Homo sapiens: one gene and its partners. The protein of the gene in region 1 purifies or fractionates together with the protein of each later gene. This does not show direct contact. Each region holds a gene or a part of one and is shown in the gene's direction. Other genes may lie near its edges. The genes, in order: NUAK1, PPP1R12B and ZSWIM8.

The links.
Region 2: the proteins of NUAK1 (region 1) and PPP1R12B purify together in Homo sapiens (affinity purification with mass spectrometry; 2 studies listed by BioGRID and IntAct, with this or other methods). This does not show direct contact.
Region 3: the proteins of NUAK1 (region 1) and ZSWIM8 purify together in Homo sapiens (affinity purification with mass spectrometry; one large-scale study listed by BioGRID and IntAct). This does not show direct contact.

What each region holds. Positions count from the first base shown.
Region 1 is NC_000012.12:106,079,827-106,083,477, reverse strand, and holds part of NUAK1 (NUAK family SNF1-like kinase 1), read left to right. Parts: intron 1-3,651. UniProt on the Homo sapiens protein: Serine/threonine-protein kinase involved in various processes such as cell adhesion, regulation of cell ploidy and senescence, cell proliferation and tumor progression. Phosphorylates ATM, CASP6, LATS1, PPP1R12A and p53/TP53.
Region 2 is NC_000001.11:202,425,051-202,428,701, forward strand, and holds part of PPP1R12B (protein phosphatase 1 regulatory subunit 12B), read left to right. Parts: intron 1-515; coding exon 516-675; intron 676-1,989; coding exon 1,990-2,134; intron 2,135-3,651. UniProt on the Homo sapiens protein: Regulates myosin phosphatase activity. Augments Ca(2+) sensitivity of the contractile apparatus.
Region 3 is NC_000010.11:73,798,866-73,802,360, forward strand, and holds the end of ZSWIM8 (zinc finger SWIM domain-containing protein 8), read left to right. Parts: exon of another isoform or gene 1-136; coding exon 137-625; exon of another isoform or gene 626-1,145; coding exon 1,146-1,305; coding exon of another isoform or gene 1,306-1,329; exon of another isoform or gene 1,330-1,430; coding exon 1,431-1,607; exon of another isoform or gene 1,608-1,774; coding exon 1,775-1,894; exon of another isoform or gene 1,895-2,151; coding exon 2,152-2,330; exon of another isoform or gene 2,331-2,450; coding exon 2,451-2,654; coding exon of another isoform or gene 2,655-2,911; 3' UTR 2,912-2,928; downstream 2,929-3,495. UniProt on the Homo sapiens protein: Substrate recognition component of a SCF-like E3 ubiquitin-protein ligase complex that promotes target-directed microRNA degradation (TDMD), a process that mediates degradation of microRNAs (miRNAs).

The sequences.
Region 1 (3,651 bases):
GTAGGTACTGTTATTTACATAATTTCACAGATAGGGAAACTGAGGCACAGAAAAACTAAGTAATTTGCCCAAGGTAATCCAGTGGTAAAGAGTAGAGTTGGGATTTGAACCCATGTCTGTCTGATTTCACGAGCCCAAATTCAAGTCGCTTTGCTTGATTTGCTAGCAGGATCCTAAATTATTTTAGAGCTGGAACTCTTTGCCTGGCTATTTCTTTGTCACTCTCCACCCTGTCTCCTACTTCTCCCTCTCCACCTTCCCACCCCTGAAACCAGCCATAGACCTGGGAAGCTGACTAAAATGGGGATGGTGCTTGCTGTTGGGAAATAGCAAGTGCTGGAGTTTACTTGCACGGAGAGTATTATTGCTGGCTGCTGCTGGAGCTGGAGAAAGTTCTCCTGGCCCACAGGGTTCAAGTGCCTCCCAGGGAGCCCTCTGAATGTCCTTTTGACCACGTCTACAAAATAAGCAAATACGGTTTCAAAATAAACGGAGCTCGCTGCATGGGTTTCATTATGAAACGGCCTTAGTACTCCCGGCACCAGCAGGAGCCCTCCAATTGGCCGCTGGTGACGTTAGTGGCTTATCCCTGGTCCCTGGGCAAAGCATGGGAATGATTTTTTTGTTGTTGCTGCTATCAGTGGAGGAGCGTGTGATGAGACTTGTTTCCTTGCTTGGAAGGATGGAGTTGCTTTGGTGTTGGGATTCTCTGTACAGATCATGGCAGCAACCATTAGTCACCATCATCCTTTGAGAGGCCCCTGGAAGCCATGACCCAGTGACCTCTTGCTCTTGCAGAGTGTTTGACCGTAGTCACATGTAGTCTATAGAATAAGCAGGAAATAGTTGGTCAAAGTAGTTCTCCATGGGAATAGGAAGTGGAATCGCAGGGTCTATTTCTGGCAAAGTGGTTGGATTATTCTAGAAGGAGCACTGGTTGTAGAGTTAGGAAATTCCGGGCTGTATGGCTTACTAGCTTCTTGACACTGGGAAAACCACTTAACCCTGTTTCCTCAGCTGTAAAACGGGGTAACAGTACTACTCACAGGCCTGCTTAGAGCAGTGAATGAGACACTCTGTGTTTAGTTTTGTAAACTGCTAAGCACTCGTGTCCAAATGAGTCAAAGTTAAAAGCAGTGGCTTTGGAGTTAGATATTTCAACCCTGCCCCTTAGTAATGGCAGGATTTGGGGTAAGTTTCTTGATGATTTAGGCTTTAGTTTCCTCATCTGTCAAGAGTTGCCAGTTCCTGTCTCTGCAGATTATTGTTTATTTGTTCATTTTTGTTTCAAGGAGTATTTTCTGAACTGTTACTGTGTGCAATGCCCTGTGCCCAGTCCTGGAGAGTCAATAATAAACGTGAAGATTTTAGACAATACTACAATCAAAGCAATTCATGCTTAACTGTTACTATACTGGGAGCCTTCTTAAGTGGCTGGCCACTGGAGAGGGAATTGAACCGGAAGTCAGCTGCTCTGAAGGTGCCTACCTAGGTCCTGGGGAGTGGTGGTCAGGCCATGGCTGAAAAATTGGTCTTGGTTTGAGGGCCACCACATTTTTCTAAGGGTTTGTGTCATCAACCTTATTGACTTCCTCTCCAGATCCTTCCTGCCACCTGCCCCCAGAGCTCTCAAAACTAAATGTCATCTTTACAAGGCCTGGAATGTAAGCCTCTTGCCTAGGGGTTGGGTTCTATGGTGCAGTGTGACCTCTTGGTCCCATGATGTATTCCCAGAAGTGATAAGACACATAGCTTTCTATGAAATCATGTAATTCCCTAATGGAGGAAAAGAATGATTAGAATTCTGAAAGCAATTGTGCAGGGAAACAGTGAGGCAGGAGCCCAGGAGAATGGCTTCATTTGTGTAAGCAAAAGGGCAATGATGTTGGGCCTGACAGTTCCCCTGCACCAAGTTCTTCAACCTAGGGTGCCTGTGCATGATGGAGGGAAAGAGCACACACACAAAGCAGTATTATCAATTAAGGCTTAGGCATATACCTTTCCTTAAGAATTTCTAATCCTGGCATTTCCCAAGGTAAAGCACGGGTGTGCATGCACACATACGTCCCAAAGAGAAACCAGATCTTCCCATTATCAACACTTTTAAATTCCTTTCCTCTTTGTTCAAGGAATCCTACTTAGGTCTGAGAATCCTACATCTTTAAAGAACTTTGGGAGTCATTTTTCCAACCCCTTGTTTTAATGATTAGACCCAGAAAGTCTAGAGGATAATGCCCACGATCACACAGTGAATCAGTCTGGACTAAATTATTGTGTCTTTGCTTCCCCAGAGTGTAGACTAGTGCTTGGCACACAGTAGGTACTTCAAAATGGTTTGATTTTGGAATAAAGGAATGATGAGCCAGGATTAGAACTCATGTGTTTGACTTCCAGGCAAATTATCTTTTCATCATCTCCCATCCACTTCCAAGGTTTTAAAAAAATGTGATTCAGCTGGTCTTGATTTGTCTTCTGGTGGTATATTCTCAACTCTTCCTGACTCAGCATTTTGCTGAAACATATTTAGAAAGGACCCATGCTGGCAAAGGCAGGCAGATACATGGCCACAAGCCGGCCTCTGTGCTCAAGAGAGCCCCTGCCATCCGTGTCTGGACCTGGGGGACCACAGACACACGAGCCACGAACCAGCGGGACATGAGCAGCAAGATCCTCTCTTGGAGCCCCCTCTGGTGCTTCTCTAAATGTGGATCCATTTTCCACGTTTCAAGGGTGGAGGACTTTGGCCTAGGAAGCCTATATAAATGCTACTGGTTTAAACTTGTCACATGTCGCTGCAGTGGTGGGGAGAGCCATGTAGCTCATTCCTCTCCCCTTCCCTGCCTGATGTTGATTTGCAGAGCACACATCTGGCATTGGAAATTATTTATCTGGCACTGCGAGAGGGTGTGGTTTCTAAAAATATTCACACAGTCGGTCAGCAGAAAGAATGAGAGCAATGTGCTGCTTTGGGCTGCATTCCGTACTCTGGAAGCATGTCTACTAAAATAGACACCAAGCACAGCACTAATTTGCAATTAATAAAAAACGGGCCAAATTCACAGCCCACTCTCTGGGAGAATGGAATGCTGACAATTCCCATAGAAGGCTCCTGTAAAAATGTCTTACAATGAGAAGAGGTCCAGGCACCAGGGTCAGCCGACCTCCTCCAAGAGGGCTGGGAATCTGGTGAGCTCCCAGGGCTCAGAGTAGAGGGGCATAGGGGAAATGGCCTGCTGCCCCTTAAGACAATGGAAGCGCGGCTGCTGTGGATAAGAAAAGAAGCTTTGAATGGCCAGGGCCAAGATGAGATAGAAACCTCTGAAGCTTAATAAGACCAAGTGGGGCAGCTGAGAGTCAGCCTCTGGGCTTTGATGATATGAATGGGAGAGCTCTGTGTTCATGCATGAATTAATCAATTCATGTGTTGTGTGTATATATCCACGCATACCTGCATTCACTCATCCATTCCTGCATTTATTCACTGAGGAATTGAACGTCTTTTCTGGGCAATATTTATTTGATCAGAAATATTCATTAAGGTCCTACTGTGTACTTGACCCTGTGCTGGGGATTTAATAGTGAACTAGATGGCCAAATTTCTGTCTTGGAACTCAGGATCTCGCAGTTGTTAAACTAGCAGTGATAATGAGC
Region 2 (3,651 bases), on another chromosome or scaffold:
GGAATGACAGAGAGGGACCCAGGATATCGGAGTTCTAGCGGCAAGTTCTGTCACTAATGTGTTTTGTGGCTTTGAGCAAGATTCCTAACCTTTCTATTTTTATTTCCTCATCTGTTAAATGAAGATTGTAATATCTATTATATTTACCTTGAAGGATTGTTGGGAAACTAAAGTCATATAACATGTAAAAAGACTTGGAAGTTTATAGCTTTGTACAAATATTATAATGTAAAAATAATGTCCCCTTTGTCTTTATGTTCTGTTGAAAACAATTTTAGGTGCATTCCCTTAATGGATCTGTATCACATAATATTTAACCTGATGATTTAATCCTGGTAAGACCATTAATATGTGTACAAATGCCATTGATCTTCTAAATTTGATAATTACCCAACTTGATGGCTAAATTGTTATTTGTATTTATGTTTATGATGTGCTTTAATCTAAGGAAAATATCCTGTCAAACTTAAGTGGAGCTTTAGTAATCCTGGCTGTCTGGTATCTGGTTTCTGTAGGAGTTGATCTAGAGCAGTCAAGAAAAGAAGAAGAGCAGCAGATGTTGCAGGATGCCCGCCAGTGGCTCAACAGTGGGAAAATAGAGGATGTGAGGCAGGCTCGCTCAGGGGCTACAGCCCTTCATGTGGCTGCTGCCAAGGGCTACTCTGAAGTCCTCAGGTATTGTCCATTTACATCAATCAGGAGTGGTTCACTGGGAGAAGATGGAATAGGTTTTGGAAGCAGAGGCTGAATTAGATTTTCCGCTATGACGTGTTTCCTTTTTTGTTGGTTTCCTCTCTGATTGTGCAGTCTTTTCTCACATTTTGCTGGTATTCATCCATGGATTGTCTCCCTCCCTCCTACCATTCCTCTAGCTTCTCACTAACATGTATGATGTGAAACAGAGTTGAGGTACATGGTCCTAGGAGGGGACTTCTTCCAGTTCTCTGATTTGTCATTAATATCCCTGCAACGACCTCTTCTTGTGACCTGTAATACTTGTGATCATTTGTTCCGTTTTGACTTATATAATTTCTTTTGTGTCATTAGATTAATTATATAGATCTTGAGTATGCGATGTCCAGCTGGCACAGGATAGCCAAACTTATATGAGGGATTTGGACTCTACTACTCTGTCTGTTCCATTTTTCCTTACATCCATACATGCTTCTTGTAGCTCTTGGTACTTAATGTTCACAGGCTTTCCCAAATACATGGGTTGCCAAAGGCATTATATGTGCAGTTGTTAACTGGACTCTTCCAGTATTTCATATTTCACCTAATGCAGGGTTTTTAATAGGTATAGCAGTGTTTTGGTGCTCCATTTCTGCCTGATAGCGCTATCCATAAGGGCCCCAATGTGGTTTGGGTCTTCAGGAGTCAAATCTTTTCTCTTCCATGCATACAAGTTAAATTATAGCTTTATAGTTAGCAAAAAATTGGAGATATGTGGGTATATGGTAAATATAGTGTCCTAGAAAGACCAACCAGAAGGCTAGTTGGGAAAATACCCTGAAGAGAATTGAGTCTTCATTTTATTTTATTTTTTTAAACTTTATCTTTATTGTTGACACTATTACAGATAGAGAGAATGACCACAGCCTATTAGAGTCTTCATTTTATATGTTACTTCTTCCCTGCACTGGAAAATGGAAAATGTACCTTTAACAGAGTTATGTGATTTGGCTAATTGAATTATGCTTTGGTTAATCTTAGGTACATACGTTTCCGTATACTCCCCTTGTATGGTGTAAAATGGATATGCCTAGGAAATATCTTATGACTTTTTTGAGAGGATTGGTAAAGGTCATCTATGATTGGTACGCAAAGTAGTTAACTATGAAACCCAAACTGTGCCTTAGAGGGCAGAAGTAATCATAAGACCCCTGTGGTTCAGGGCCAAAATCTGAAATATCAATTAGGTAATAGTGTATTTGCCAGAAAATTGTAATATACAGAAGATATATGTCTTGTTTTGGGTTTTCTTTTTAGACTTTTAATTCAGGCTGGCTATGAACTCAATGTTCAGGATTATGATGGCTGGACTCCCCTCCATGCTGCTGCACACTGGGGAGTGAAGGAGGCTTGCTCCATCCTGGCAGAAGCACTTTGTGACATGGATATTCGAAATAAACTGGTTAGTGAGCCTGAACCTCTAAAAGAACAACGAGATTGGTGGCTGGGTCTCTAGAATAAAAGGCTTAACATCTCTTTTCAATGGCAGTCTGACTGTTGTGAAATATACATCACTGGTAGCTATAATGTTACCCTCCACCACCCTGCCTCTGGCCCTATTAACACAGAGTTATGTTTGTTATTTAAAATAAAACTCCGTGGACCTTCTGATTGTATTTATGTTCAAGCCTCTAAAACAGGAAAAAAATATATTTGTTCTTGGCAAAAAATGAGCTTTGAGGAGCCTAATGTTATTGTCTGTGGTGAGGTATGAAAGATTTTATTGTTGCTGTATTCATGTGAGTCATTAAAATGTTATAATGACAAAGATCCTTGAGTTTGGCTGAAAATAGTGTTATTCGGTCTCACTTCAAACAACTTAGAAGCTCTGGAACTCCTATCCCTATGTCTACTGATTTTATTTTATTATTATTATTTTTGAGACAGAGTCTCGCTCTGTTGCCCAGGCTGGAGTGCAGTGGTGCGACCTCAGCTCACTGCAGGCTCCACCTCTCAAGTTCACGCCATTCTCCTGCCTCAGCCTCCTGAGTAGCTGGGACTACAGGCACACGCCGCCACGCCTGGCTAATTTTTTGTATTTTTTTTATTAGTAGAGATGGGGTTTCACTGTGTTAGCCAGGATTGTCTCGATCTCCTGACCTCGTGATCCGCCTGCCTCAGCCTCCCAAAACGCTGGGATTACAGGCATGAGCCACCATGCCCAGCTGATTTTATTTTAATTAAACTAATTTTTTTTTTTTTTTAATGGTAGAGATGGGGGGTCTCACTGGTTTCCCAGCTGGTCTCAAGCTCCTGGGCTCAAGTGATTCCCAGCCTTGCCACTTGTAATCCCAAACTCTGTGTTTAAAGGATTTGGTGTTTCTCGTTATGTGTCCTCTGTGATAGATGAAGGTATTATCATAATGTATGGTAGACTAGTTAGGGAAGCAGTTATTATTGGAATTAAAGGCAAAAAGTGAATATTGAATAATACTGAGTAATCCCAAATTGTTGGGATTACAGGTGTGAGCCACTGTGCCCAGCCCATATATGTACTGATTTTCTAGTAGTGCAGAGATATGGCCTTTTAATTAGTAGATATTCTTATCTGTGTCACATCTCTCCTGAACCCAGGTTTCATTCTCAGACTGTGGGTCAGGGTTCTTAATTATGCTGATGCTTCCTAAAAGAATTAACTTTCTTGTCAGTCCTCCCCTCACTTAAAGGAAGATGATTCCTGTGATTTAATCTTTATTAAACATGTGCCCTGAACCTCCCTCTGAAGTTTTGAAGAGCCCTTTATGGAATTTATCATAGCAATTAAGACCATTTTAGAACAGATACAAGTAGGGATTTCACTTGATTATTTGCCAGGTGGCAGTAAGGATTAGAAATGGTGTGATTTCTGCAGTACTGTTGTACAAACTCTATATTTAAAGGATTTGGTGTTTCTTGTTATGTGTCCTGTGTGATAGATGA
Region 3 (3,495 bases), on another chromosome or scaffold:
ACTCTAAGCATTGACACTGACCTCTGATGATTCCCTGGGAATGAGACAGCTCTGAGGGAGACATTGGAATCTCATCTAACACCTTCCATGTGGTAAAGGCCTTTCCCCCTTAACACTCTGTGCCCCTCTCTTCCAGGACAACCTGATGTTGGAGAAGGCCTGCATGGCAGTGGAAGAGGCAGCTAAGGGTGGGGGCGTGTACCCTGAAGTGTTGTTTGAGGTTGCTCACCAGTGGTTCTGGCTGTATGAGCAAACTGCAGGTGGCTCATCCACAGCCCGTGAAGGGGCTACAAGCTGTAGTGCCAGTGGGATCAGGGCAGGTGGGGAAGCTGGGCGGGGTATGCCTGAGGGTAGAGGGGGCCCAGGGACTGAGCCGGTTACAGTGGCAGCGGCAGCAGTGACAGCAGCAGCCACAGTGGTGCCCGTCATATCGGTGGGGTCTAGTTTATACCCGGGTCCAGGACTGGGGCATGGCCACTCCCCTGGCCTGCACCCCTACACTGCTCTACAGCCCCACCTGCCCTGTAGCCCTCAGTATCTCACTCACCCAGCTCACCCTGCCCACCCCATGCCTCACATGCCCCGGCCTGCCGTCTTCCCTGTGCCCAGCTCTGCATACCCACAGGTGAGACCAGTGTTCTGCTGGGGGGTAAGGCATGGGAAAATACTGGGAATTCATAGGGGGTTGGAGTGGGTACTCTGGGAGTATAATTGGTCAGTCGGAGAGTCCTGGTGAGGTGGTGGGAGTCTGGGGGACCCAGCCCAACTAAAATAAGAAATGACGGCCGGGCATGGTGGCTCATGCCTGTAATCCCAGCACTTTGAGAGGCCGATGTGGGTGGATCACTTGAGGTCAGGAGTTCGAGACCAGCCTGGCCAACATGGGGAAACCCCGTCTCTACTAAAAATTAGCTGAGTGCACGCCTGTAATCCCAGCTTCTTGGGAGGCTGAGATGGGAATCACTTGAACCTGGGAGGCAGAGGTTGCAGTGAGCCGATATCGTGCCACTGCACTCCAGCCTGGAGGACAGAGCGAGACTCTATCTCAAAAAAAACATGTCAGGATAGCAGCTTGTGGGGGTGAAGCACGACAGCAACATCCTAATCAAGTTTGGCATCTTCCCCTTTCTTCTCCCTGCCCCTAGGGTGTGCATCCTGCATTCCTAGGGGCTCAGTACCCTTATTCAGTGACTCCTCCCTCACTTGCTGCCACTGCTGTGTCTTTCCCCGTTCCTTCCATGGCACCCATCACAGTACATCCCTACCACACAGAGCCAGGGCTTCCACTGCCCACCAGTGTGGCCTGTGAGTTGTGGGGCCAGGGAACAGGTGAATGGAGGGGAGGCACACTGGGCAGGGGAGGTGGGGAGGGAATGTTCTTTGTCTCTCTTTGGGCTCTGAGTTCCTCACATGGCTCTCACCCCACTTAGTGAGCAGTGTCCATCCAGCATCCACGTTTCCAGCCATCCAAGGTGCCTCACTGCCTGCCCTGACCACACAGCCCAGCCCTCTGGTGAGCGGAGGTTTTCCACCGCCCGAGGAGGAGACACACAGTCAGCCAGTCAATCCCCACAGCCTGCACCACCTGCATGCTGCCTACCGTGTCGGTGAGAGGACATCCCTTTCTGTGCTCCTACCTGCAGTTGTGCCAGTGGCTCTTCAGAGGACCCTTCCTCTAGCTCTTCATTTGTTTACTGTGGGGTCAGGTGACAGGTTGGGGTAAAGGGTGAAGAGGATACACCGTACCATGTGCCCACCCTTATCTATCTCCCAGGAATGCTGGCACTGGAGATGCTGGGTCGCCGGGCACACAACGATCACCCCAACAACTTCTCCCGCTCCCCCCCCTACACTGATGATGTCAAATGGTTGCTGGGGCTGGCAGCAAAGCTGGGTAACACCTCCCCTCCCTAGGACCATTGCCCCCCCCCCACCTGCTCTCCCCACCTTCCTTATCCCAGACCTCCTTCCTAGCTCTTGCTCAGAGTTGAGGCCTTGGTCGGGTATGTGTGCGTGCGCGGGGGGCGGAGGGTTACCTCAGCTCCTGGGGTGGAGGGAGGCTCTCTGCCAGGCCAGAGCTGAGATCTGTAAGTTGGGTCCCTAGGGCAGAGGTGGCCACCCCCGTCTCATGCCCCTCCCCCTGCCCCCCAGGAGTGAACTACGTGCACCAGTTCTGTGTGGGGGCAGCCAAGGGGGTGCTGAGCCCGTTTGTGCTGCAGGAGATCGTCATGGAGACGCTGCAGCGGCTGAGTCCCGCTCATGCCCACAACCACCTGCGTGCCCCGGCCTTCCACCAACTGGTGCAGCGCTGCCAGCAGGCATACATGCAGGTGACAACCTAGAATTATGGAGCAGGGTGGAGCACTTCCTGGGTGGTCTTGGACCAGAGGGAGGCAGGGCCTGTTTCTGTGCTTTGTACTAAGGCTCATCCTGCACACATCCTCCTCCAGTACATCCACCACCGCTTGATTCACCTGACTCCTGCGGACTACGACGACTTTGTGAATGCGATCCGGAGTGCCCGCAGCGCCTTCTGCCTGACGCCCATGGGCATGATGCAGTTCAACGACATCCTACAGAACCTCAAGCGCAGCAAACAGACCAAGGAGCTGTGGCAGCGGGTCTCACTCGAGATGGCCACCTTCTCCCCCTGAGTCTTTCACCCTTAGGGTCCTATACAGGGACCCAGGCCTGTGGCTATGGGGGCCCCTCACACAGGGGGAGTGAAACTTGGCTGGACAGATCATCCTCACTCAGTTCCCTGGTAGCACAGACTGACAGCTGCTCTTGGGCTATAGCTTGGGGCCAAGATGTCTCACACCCTAGAAGCCTAGGGCTGGGGGAGACAGCCCTGTCTGGGAGGGGGCGTTGGGTGGCCTCTGGTATTTATTTGGCATTTATAAATATATAAACTCCTTTTTTACTCTAGTCGACCTGGGCCTTTCCCTTCTTTCCAAATTCCATGTGCAGATGAACCTTCAACTGGGGAGGAAACTTCTGACACTTGCTTTAGTCTAGGTTTTTCCCACTCCAGGGAGGCAGACAAAACAGAAAAATAAGGATGTTTATTAAGGACATTTCTAGCCCACAGCTAGGGCTCATACTCGGCTCTATGAGCCACTGTCCGACCTCATCCCCATTCAATGTGAATGACATTAGGGAGGCCGGGCCACAGGTAGATCCCACTGCCTGGCTAAAGGGGCCATAGCAAGGGGTCCCTCCCATGCAAGGGGTCTCTCCCATAGCCAGGTATAGAATAGATACACTGCTGCGGATGAAGAGGGAAATCTCATTGGACTAATACATTCCCCTACACCCTGCCTGGACCCTCTCATTCCTCCCCACCTCCCAAGATGATGGGTCAAAGGTACCTAGCACTATTATGTGGGGTACCAAAGGAAGCCCCTTTATTTGTCCCAGAACTGTGGGAAAAGGATACCCTTCCCTTCTCAGCCATCTCAGGCCTGGGGGCTACTGAGGTAGAGGGGGAGGGGC